Linked DNA regions of Homo sapiens: region 1 is linked to region 2. Evidence: fine-mapped expression QTL. A gene starts in region 2. The other region holds a variant in brackets. All regions are shown on one strand. Distances are between the middles of the regions.

Region 1 (5,527 bases), 29 kb before region 2:
AGCACAGCCTAAGCAATAGCCCAGAGGTGTGGAGAGGGACCCCCCACCTTGGGGAGTAGCGTGGCTGGAGCACAGGATGCGTGGAAGGAGGGGGAGCTGTGACCTGAGGGGCAGGAGGGGGAGGGGTGCAGATGCATTGGAAATTGTTCCCCACCCCATCACCAAAAATTAGATGTCTCATAAAGTAGAAACTGAACAGAATAGACTCCGCCTTTGGAAATGCACATCTGCTTGTCCTTTCAGAGTCTACTTTACCTTGCTAATTGTGACTCTCCTTGTTTCTAAAATGTATATTTAAATCACTTTTCCAATGGATATTTACTTACAGTTACTCCCTCCCTTTTCTTTGAGACGGAGTCTTCCTCTGTTGCCAGGCTGGCGTGCAGTGGTGCGATCTCGGCTTACTGCAGCCTCCGACTCCCTGGTTCAAGCGATTCTCCTCTTCAGCCTCCCAAGTAGATGGAATTACAGGCACATGCCACCACGCCCAGCTAATTTTTTTTTGTATTTTTAGTAGCGATGGGGTTTCAACATGTTGGCCAGGATGGTCTTGATCTCCTGACCTCGTGATCTGCCTGGGTTGGCCTTCCAAAGTGCTGGGATTGCAGGCGTGAGCCACTGTGCCTGGCCCCTTTTTAAGATATATACTGTACTTAAAACTATTCACATATAGTCTGCAGGTTTATATACTTAAAAAGTGCGAAGTCTTTCTCCTGTGGATCCCAAGATAACTTCTAGAAGCGGGTACAGGCCCTGGATCACATCATGTATCAAAATGAACCCATAAAACTCCCAGGTTAAGAACTGAGGTGAAGGAGTCCCTGGCTCTTAGTGGAGGTTGCTCCCCGCATCTCTTCCTGTGTGCAGAGCTTCACTAAATGGTTACAGCCCCACTTCAGAGTTTCTGAAACTAGTCTGATTTCCACAACAGAGGTCCCTTAGTGTTCATGCACTGGCAAGTGACAAGATCAGACCTGTGTGTGGACCACACAGAGGATGGGTGGGGGTGGGAGGAGATGGCTGGTGGAGCCAGTGAGGACTGTAGTAGTCTGGGCAAAAGATGCCAAGGCCTAACTTGTAGTGAGGAAGGCTCAAGTTTGCAGGCAAGTTGCTAGATCTCTGAGAGTCAGGGGATATAGGTGTAGTAGATGTGGAAATGCATTGCCCGGACCCCCTTCTTCCAGGAAGGCCTTTCCATCCAGCTGCAGGAGTGAGCTGGGCAGATGGCCTCCAGCTGTCAGCCCTTCAGGGTCTGCCTCAGCTGCAGAGAGTTGCCCCACCCAACACCCTGCCCTCCCCAGGGCAGCTGCCTCTGGGAACTGAGCTACGCGGGAGCATAGAGACCCAGCCATTTTAGTCCTCCATGAAAATATTCCAGTGGGTGCTTCAAGCTCCTGCGTGCCCTACTGAGTTGGTGGGTACTTGATCGGGCCTGCATCACAGTTCAATTTCGCTCTCTGCCCAATCCATCTTCCCTTCACAGATGTTGTTTTTTTGTTTTGTTTTGGAGATTGAGTCTCACTCTGTTGCTCAGGCTGGAGTGCAGTGACACCATCTCAGCTCACCGTAACCTCTGCCACTCTGGTTCAAGTGATTGTCCTGCTTCAGCCTCCTGAGTAGCTGGGATTACAGGCACGTGCCGCCAGGTCTGGCTAATTTTTTTGTATTTTTAGTAGAGACTGGGTTTCTCCATGTTGGCCTGGCTGGTCTTGAACTCCTGACCTCAGGTGATCCACTCCCCTTGGCCTCCCAAAGTACTGGGATTACAGGTGTGAGCCACCACACCAGGCCACAGATGTTGATCCTTAATAAACATCTTGCACCCAAATTTTCATCTCTGCATCCGCTTCAGCCTGAGACATGGGGGTGGAGGAGTGAGTGGGGGTGGAGGGTCCAAGATGGCTGAGTTTCTAACTGGGGATTCCAAGAAATAGTGATGCCAGGACCTAAGAAAATGGGGCTAGAAGAGGAAGGGCAGGTTTGGGCAGTGGGGCCATGGGCATAGCTTTTGACTGGTTGCCTGTCGAAGGCTGAGATGCCTGTTGAAGGCTGGCCTAATAGGCCTGAGTACGCATTCAAGGCCAGTACTCAAAATTGATCAGGGCTGGCAATGACAACTTGCAGTCATCAGGGGGCAGAGCTGGGGAGTAGTTAAAGTTGTTAGACGGCTCTAGTAGCCTCAGACGCTACTAGTTAAAATGTCAAGCTTCGCCCTTATGGTTTACCAAGTGTTTCCATAACTCATGACTGTTGTCAAGCCACAGATAGAGAAGACAATGTGGCCCCTTTGTGGAAAGATCACTGGCTTTAGGGATGGTCAGATTCAAGGTGGCATCCCAGCTCCACCCCTTACTGCCTGACCCAGTCTCCAGGTCCTCA[C/T]CTGTAAAGTCAGGATAATCAGGGCTGTATTGGGGATGAAGTCTAAGAAGGTATGGCCAACCCAATATTCTGAAACCTGGCACATAAAGGGAAAGAAGCACTGATGCTTATTTTTCTGTCTAAATTGTATCTCAGCGAAACCAAGCAGTCGATGAGGGCAAGTTTTTGTTTTTTTAAATCGGTAATTTCCAGTTAATAAATGCAGAAGGAATGATAAAAATTAATATTATCACTGACCTGCAACCCCTCATGGAATGATGCACCTGTGCAATGGTCAGCAGTGGCAGCTAAGCCAGCAGGGGACTTTCTCAGGACTGGATCAGGCTGGTGATGCCTGAACACACCCAGCAATCATAATAACTTAGACACAACCAGACAGATGCCTCCTGAGATGACGCGAGAGAAACACACAGCCCCATCTATGCAGTGTTCCTGCCAAAAAGATCGAGCTTGACCTGATCAAGCCTCTTGATGTAACTACCAGTTTACAGGAAATACCAGGGACAGAGAAACAAGTGGAAGGACACCATGAGGCCACAGTCAGCCAAATCTGGACTGTGGGGCAACTACAGGGCAAATGAACCTGTTTCTTCACTGAATATATGGCAAGAAAAAATAGAGGGAGGAGGAGCTTCCAGTTCAAAAGAGATCTAAGAGACAAAGTGTGGGCTTTATATGATTAGAACAAGTCACCTATAAAAAAAAATTTATGGAATAATTGTGAGTGACAACATTCACTGGATTATTAGACAATCCAGTGAAGGAATTATTGGTAAATAATTGAAGGAATTATTGGTAAATTTTTAAGTGTGATAATGGTATTAAGGCTGTATCTTAAAGGTACACATAGAAATATTTACAGATGAAATGACACAGCACCAGAAATGGCTTTAAAATAATTTAGTGATAGGAGCATGTGTGGAAGAAACGTGGGTAGGTTAAAAGATGAACAAGTCCGGGCATGGTGGCTCATGCCTGTAATCCCAGCACTTTGGGAGGCTGATGTGGGCAGATCACCTGAGGTCAGGAGCTCGAGACTAGCCTGACCAACATGGAGAAACCCCATCTCTACTAAAAATACAAAATTAGCCGGGCGTGGTGGTGCATACCTGTAATCTCAGCTACTTGGGAGGCTGAGGCAGAAGAATTGCTTGAACCCGGGAGGCGGAGGTTGCGGTGAGCCGAGATCACGTCATTGCACTCCAGCCTGGGCAACAAGAGCGAAACTCTGTCTCAAAAAAAAAAAAAAGAAAAGATGAACAAGACTGTCTGAGAGTTGATAATTTTTGAAGCTGGATGATGGGAACATCATTCATTATGCCATTTTCTCTACTTCATGTGGGTTTAAGCATTTTCACTCAGGGGAAAGAAGACGAGAAAAGTACCTGGCACACAGTAGCAGATCAATAAATGATAGCTTAGGGTTATTTTATGATGTGCAAACTGTACTTCAGGGAGATTAAGTAACTTACCCAAAGTCACACAGAATTGGCAACCATGACCTACTTCTCAGAAAGTCCTAGGCCTGTGTAGCCCAGTTGGGCAGCAACAATAATCACAAAAGCGACTCAGTTAAATTGAATTTTTATTCCAAATGACTAATATCTAGAAAGGCAGTAGCTAACACTCAAAACAATTTGTTTAAGTGTAAATTAAAAGCAGTTGATTTGCAGGAGAGCAAACAGTGGGGTAGTGGCCATGGCACTCTGATCATGGTTATATCCAAGAAAGCATAAAATAACCAATGTCCTGATATGCAATCTGGATGTGCAGCATTTACAGCAAACAACATAAAAAGAAAGAAAGAAGAATGGAAAAGAAAAGAAGAAAAAAACCACCACAAAGTCCCAAACCTCAGAAATTAACATTCACTTAAGAACACAGTGGTGAAGACTTTTGGTAGCAAAATTTGCACGGTTCTTAAAATGGGAGTCTTCAAAAGTACTTCTTCAAATTCAAAAGCTAAGAAAACCAAAGAGGGAACAGTTACACAGGCTTAGTGGAGATGCCGCCTGTCATGAAGATGACCATCAGTCCTACTTCCCAGACACAGTGAGAACCGGTGAGCCTGACGAACCTGAAGGAAAAGGCTGGCTGACGGGTGCTGATGCCACTGACTATACAAGAACACACCGGGTCAACTCATCATTGACAGCGAGAGACACACTACTGCTCCTCCTGGCTGATGCCAAGGCTGCCTTTCTGCACCTCAAGCTCCTCGGCACTGACCATTGATGGGTCAATGGCCGCGTATTTGGTTCCATGGAATTGCAGCAAATGTATCTGTTGAAATGCAGAATCATTATTTTATTTATTTTTTGAGCTGGAGTGTCACTCTTGTTGCCCAGGCTGGAGTGCAGTGGCACTATCTTGGTTCACTCCAACCTCCGCCTCCCGGGTTCACCCAATTCTCCTGCCTCAGCCTCCCGAGTAGCTGGGATTACAGGTGCCCGCCACCATGCCCAGCTAATTTTTGTATTTTTAGTAGAGACAGGGTTTCACCATGTTGGCCAGGCTGGTTTTGAACTCCTGGCCTCAAGTGATCCATCTGCCTCGGCCTCCCAAAGTGCCAGATTACAGGTGTGAGCCACTGCACCCTGCCAGAATCATTGTTTTAAATGGCTGCATTACAGAGTAAAATGTATACTGCCTTCTATAAAAAGTTTGGTAGGAAAACATCACCATAGTGGACAAATGTTTTATACTTCTAAAATTTACAGACTAAGACATACTAAATAGAGAAAAGTCAAACAATTTTTTGAAACCACATTTGGGATCTTTGTTCCTCACTCCCTGAGCAGTCTCCCTGAGTCCCTGCAGAGTCTCCTGAGACATCTTAGATGGTGCATGCTCATGAGATGTTTACCCTTCCCTTCTGCTGCTGTGAGTTAGGTCCTTCCAATCTTCTGCTACTGTGACTAGTGCTGCTATGATGAATATCTCTGGGCATCAAGTATTCCTGTTTAGGATCCTGTCTTCTATAAGGGGATGACAGGATCAAGGGATATGACTGGTTTTTGGGATTACAGGTGTGAGCCACCATGCGTGGCCAGGATATAACTGGTTTTTTAAGGCTCTTGATTCATCTTGCCAAACTGCCAGGGCACTCACCCCTCACTGCTATTCTATTATCCATTTAGTTAGAGTA
Region 2 (5,000 bases):
AGCCCCGTCTCTACTAAAAATACAAAATTAGCTAGGCGTGGTGGCACATGCCTGTAATCCCAGCTACGCAGGAAGCTGAGGCAGAAGAATCACTTGAACCCGGGAGGCAGAGGTTGCGGTGAGCCGAGATCACGCCATTGCACTCCAGCCTGGGCAACGAGAGCGAAACTCCATCTCAAAAAAACAAACAAAACAGCAACAACAACAAAAACAAATTAGCTGGGCGCGGTGATGGGCTCCTGTAATCCCAGCTACTTAGGAGGCTGAGGCAGGAGAATTGCTTGAACCTGGGTGGCGGAGGTTGCAGTGAGCTGAGATCACACCACTGCACTCCAGCCTGGGCGACAGAGTGAGACTCTGTCTCAAAAAACAAACAAACAAACAAACAAAAAAACCTGCCAGTTGTGACTATGCCCCTATCCCTCATGGCTTCAACAGAACCTGCCACTTTAAAGTCAACAAAATCACCTTTATCAATGTTTAAGTCACATAACCAGCATAATTAGTCAGAGGTTTCTGCTACTTTATTTCAATCTATAGTTGATGTGCATTGTGGAAAATCTGTGCTTATAAATACTAGCCATAACAAAATATTAGAAGCTGAGAGTCTCTGGGAGATGCAACTGGCTTTTTAATGCACGTCTCCATCCCTCACCACAGAAGTACACAGCTATCCTTTTCTTAGATCTCTTCAGGGGAGATCTATCCCTCTTTTCTTCATTGCATTATCTCTAAACCTTACAGGAGGAAAAGGTGCCTACCTGACATCTGTGACATCTCTTCTCATGCTCTTGGGAAAAAAGCTTTTGGAATTTGGACACAGCTATTAAGTTACTCCTCAGTGGCCAGCCGCGATGGCTCACGCCTGTAATCTCAGCCCTTTGGGAGGCCGAGGCGGGCGGATCACGAGGTCAGGAGATCGAGGCCATCCTGGCTAACACGGTGAAACCCCGTCTCTACTAAAAATACAAAAAATTAGCCGGGCGTGGTGGCGGGAGCCTGTAGTGCCAGCTACTCGGGAGGCTGAGGCAGGAGAATGGCGTAAACCCAGCAGACAGAGCTTGCAGTGAGCTGGGATGGCGCCACTGCACTCCAGCCTGGGCGACGGAGCGAGACTCCGTCTCAAAAAAAAAAAAAAAAAAAAAGTTACTCCTTAATTTGTTGAATCTTTGTGCCAAAAGGAGCTGAACCAGTGTAGGTGGAGACAAAGGAAGCAGCATAAATGTCTAACTTATAACTCCCCAGGAAAACGAGAAGAGGAAAAATGAGACACTCCGGTCCCGCTCTGTTCCTCATCCCCCGTTTACAAACCTTACACCTGGCCCACACTCAGTAACAACAAAGACATCTATCACTTTCAGGCCGAGGTCCTGTCTCCAAAATTACTGGCCTCTGCTCACAGTTCTTAAAAGTTTGCTGAGAAAAAAAAAAAGAAAGAAAGAAAGAAAGAAATGTTCCTGGGCTGCAGTCGTGTAGCCCCAGGATGGGTTTACAGGAGGATGCCCCGGTTAAGCCCTGTGCCGCCCCCACCTCCCGCTGGAGACTCACACACAGCTCCCCGCCAGTCCCACCGGTGACAGCCACACAAAGGCAGGGTCACAAGCACACCGACCACCCCACAGCCCAGATTCGGCCCCAGACACACACTCACAAGGGCACGTGATCACGTGCGTGGTCACATGGACCGGCCCACTCAGAACACACTCACAAAGTCACACCAACCAAGGCAGCCACGCGCCACACACACACACCTACAACCCCGCATACCGCACACCCAGCCGCTTCCCAGGGCTTCGCCCACCCTCACCTGCCGTGGCCGCCCCCACGTCCCTTCCCCTCCTTCAGGAGGCCGCTCTTCGCTCCAGTACGAGCGCGGGCCGTGGAGGCGGCTGGGCCCGGGTCGGGGCGGGCGGCGGAGCACTCGGGACCCACGGGCACAGCAGGCTGCGCGGTGCGTGCGGGAGGCCGGCCTCTGAGGGGGCGGGGCGCGTGGCCGAGCGAGCTTGGGCCGCCGCGCTCCCCCCGCCCGACCGCCGCTCAGCTGGCGCGAGACTCCCGCTTCCGGGTTCTCAGAGGGCGGGGCCACGTCGCGAGGAAGGGGCGGTGCTGCGTGGCCCCGGCGGTCGCCACGGCGACGGGCGCGGGGGGAGGCTCCGTGGGATGCTTGGCTGCGGCTGGCGTGAGGAGAGGGCTGAGTTACGTCTGGGTCAGCCTTAGTTCTGCCCTACGTACCTAGGAGGAGGAGGAGGTGGAGGAGGCGCCTGGCCCCTTGGGACCTGCTTCTTCTTTCAGTTCGCGTTTTCTCTGTCGTGTACAGCTTTGGAGGGACACCTTTGGGTTCCAGACTTTGATGAACACAACTTTGTATACTCTTTTCTTAGGAACATTTTTTTTCCTTTGGCACAACCGTAGACGCTCTCCGTAGTCCTCCACTCAAAGCCTCCGCTTCCTTTTTGACGTTCTGGGGATTTCTGGGAACATACGCCCACCCATCTTCCTGTTCCTTCATCACTTTTCCCTTAAAATCAGAGAGAATATTAATACATTTGTAATCATTGTTCTTAAGGTGTTGCAGACGTCACGTCTTAAGGTGTTCCAGACTTCACGACTCCTTTTTTATTAGTAAAATATTTCTGAAATTATGATAAGGTGAATAACATGTAAATCTCCTTGTTTTGAATTTTTTTTTTAGGGATCCTGCAACAAGGTCCTGTTGAAAGTGCCTCTCTCTAATATGTTTTAGGGAAAGCTTGTACCCTGTTTTAGGGCCTGTAGACTTTGCCTTTACCTAGGCAACTGTTTATGGGATTAAGGTCAGGGAAGATTCCAACTAAATTGCATCCTACTTAGTTATCACTTCTGTCCCCTGGCCCAGGAGCCTTGGGTTCCACTCTAGAACTTGGACAAATCCCAAAAGCATTTTCCAAAAGCACGGTGACATACTTACCTTTTTCTTTCTTTCTTTTTTTCTCTAAATCATTTCTTTCGGGGTTGCAACTCAGTCGCAGGAATTCATCTTTTATTGTAAGCACCACATAGATGTATAGAGCACGTTTCCGTGGAGTATTTTAAGTTGGGGGCCTTTTCTCCAACATTTGGAATCGTTTAATGGGTGGAATAACTTGCAAACTACTGGTTGTCTCTGAAACTGGTTATGGATATTCATTACATTAGTTGTCTATTTTCCCAGGTGGTCTCGAAGCTTCAATCTAGAGCAAAGGGAATAGAGTGATTCCACCAGTCCATTAGCACATGATTAGCCCATAAATAATAGGTACTAAATGTATATTGATTGTAATCCCAGCACTTTGGGAGGCCAAGGTGGACGGATCGCTTGATTGAGCCCAGGAGTTCGAGACTAGCCTGGGCAACCTGGGAGACCCTGTCTGTACAAAAAAATACAAAAATTAGCCGGGCGTGGTGGCGCATGCCTGTAATCCCCGCTACTCAGGAGGCTGAGATGGGAGAATCTGTTAAGCCCAGATGTCGAATCCACTGCACCACATCCTAGGTGACAAAGCGAGAGACCTTGTCTGCTCCCAACAAAAAACTATATTGAATGAATTAATGAGTGGAATAAATAAATCTATCCCCATTTCCACATTTGTTCCTAAAGCTGTATTCCTTAGACCCCATCCCTAGACCCCATTTAGTAACAGCTTTAATGAGACCTAATCTATGGATATACCCGTATGTTAAAAGTCATTGTTCTGTTAGTGTGGTAGTAAACTTTGACAATTGACAATAAAAAAAAATCACTATGTAGATATGTTTTGTTACATATCAACTTTTATTACAATGTAGACCAATCCAAAAATAATAAATGTTTTACTTCTTTCAGGAAGGGAAACCATGGTCATGTTTGTGTCCTCAGTTGTTCCATAACACATGGCAAGCACATTGTCCCTTTCCTAATCCCAACAAAGAACATTTAATATCTGTGAATTCCAGCTGAATTGTAATGCACAAATTCAGGCAGCAAACTTTTGATTCAGGCAGGTCCCAGTGCAGGCTGACCTGGTAGACATGGCTGTAAGGATTTGCAGCTGTTGTGGCTGGGGTCTGCCAGATGGTTCCCACAGCACCAATTCATCTGTGAGAATCTCACAGAAAAACTGGAATGTTCACAAAATATGCTGTGAACACCAAGCAAAGTAAACAGATGGCCAGCTGGCTCTCAGAATTACCCAAACCCGGGCTCTGTCCCTCTTAATTTATCTTTTCACAGGATAATATTTGTTTGAAAACACACAAAATAATCCCAGATCCAGAAATATCCCTATGCATGTGTATACATAAGTGAATGCACTTTTTTTTTTTTTTGAGACGGAGTCTTGCTCTGTTGCCAGGCTGGATTGCAGTGGCACATCTCAGCTCATTGCAACCTCCGCCTCCCGGATTCAAGCTATTCTCCTGCCTCAGCCTCCCGAGTAGCTGGGTCTACAGGTGCCTGCCACCACACCCAGCTAATTTTTGTATTTTTAGTAGAGACGGGGTTTCACCATGTTGGCCAGGATGGTCTCGATCTCTTGACTTCGTGATCCTCCCGCCTCGGCCTCCCAAAGTGCTGGGATTACAGGCGTGAGCCACTGCGCCCAGCTGTGAATGCACTTTTTAAAATGTTTGGAGAGGTATGTACCAAGCAGCTAAGTGATTACCTCGGAGGAGGAACTGGGGATGGAGGGAGTGGTGAAGAACTTTGACTTTGGATTTAATAGTTGAGTTTATATTAAAATGTATTCATATATTATCTGTGTGATCAAAATAATTAAAAGCAGCCAGGCATAGTGGCTCATACCTGTAATCCCAGCACTGAGGGAAGCCAAGGCGGGTGGATCACTTGAGGTCAGGAGTTCGAGACCAGCCTGGCCAACATGGCAAAACCCCCATCTCTACTAAAAATACAAAAATTAGCCGGGTGTGGTGGTGCACACCTGTAATCCCAGCTACTGGGGAGGCTGAGGCAGGATAATCACTTGAACCCACCTGGGAGGCGGCAG

Evidence for each region.
Region 1: its variant is fine-mapped to the expression of SPG21 in blood mononuclear cells (TOPMed, PIP above 0.99).

What each region holds. Positions count from the first base shown.
Region 1 is chr15:64,959,075-64,964,601 of GRCh38, forward strand. It overlaps SPG21 (SPG21 abhydrolase domain containing, maspardin), which reads right to left. Exons shown (of 9, transcript NM_016630.7): 9 at 3,948-4,662. The coding sequence ends at 4,546. Among named protein-coding and RNA genes, the nearest start is that of SPG21, 28 kb to the right of the region's middle. The variant C/T (reference allele first, on the strand shown) is at 2,380.
Region 2 is chr15:64,987,858-64,992,857 of GRCh38, forward strand. SPG21 (SPG21 abhydrolase domain containing, maspardin) reads right to left here and starts at 2,057. Exons shown (of 9, transcript NM_016630.7): 1 at 1,808-2,057. RefSeq lists enhancers at 1,264-1,765, 1,766-2,265, 2,321-2,390, 2,431-2,490 and silencers at 1,494-1,788, 1,591-1,640, 1,761-2,250.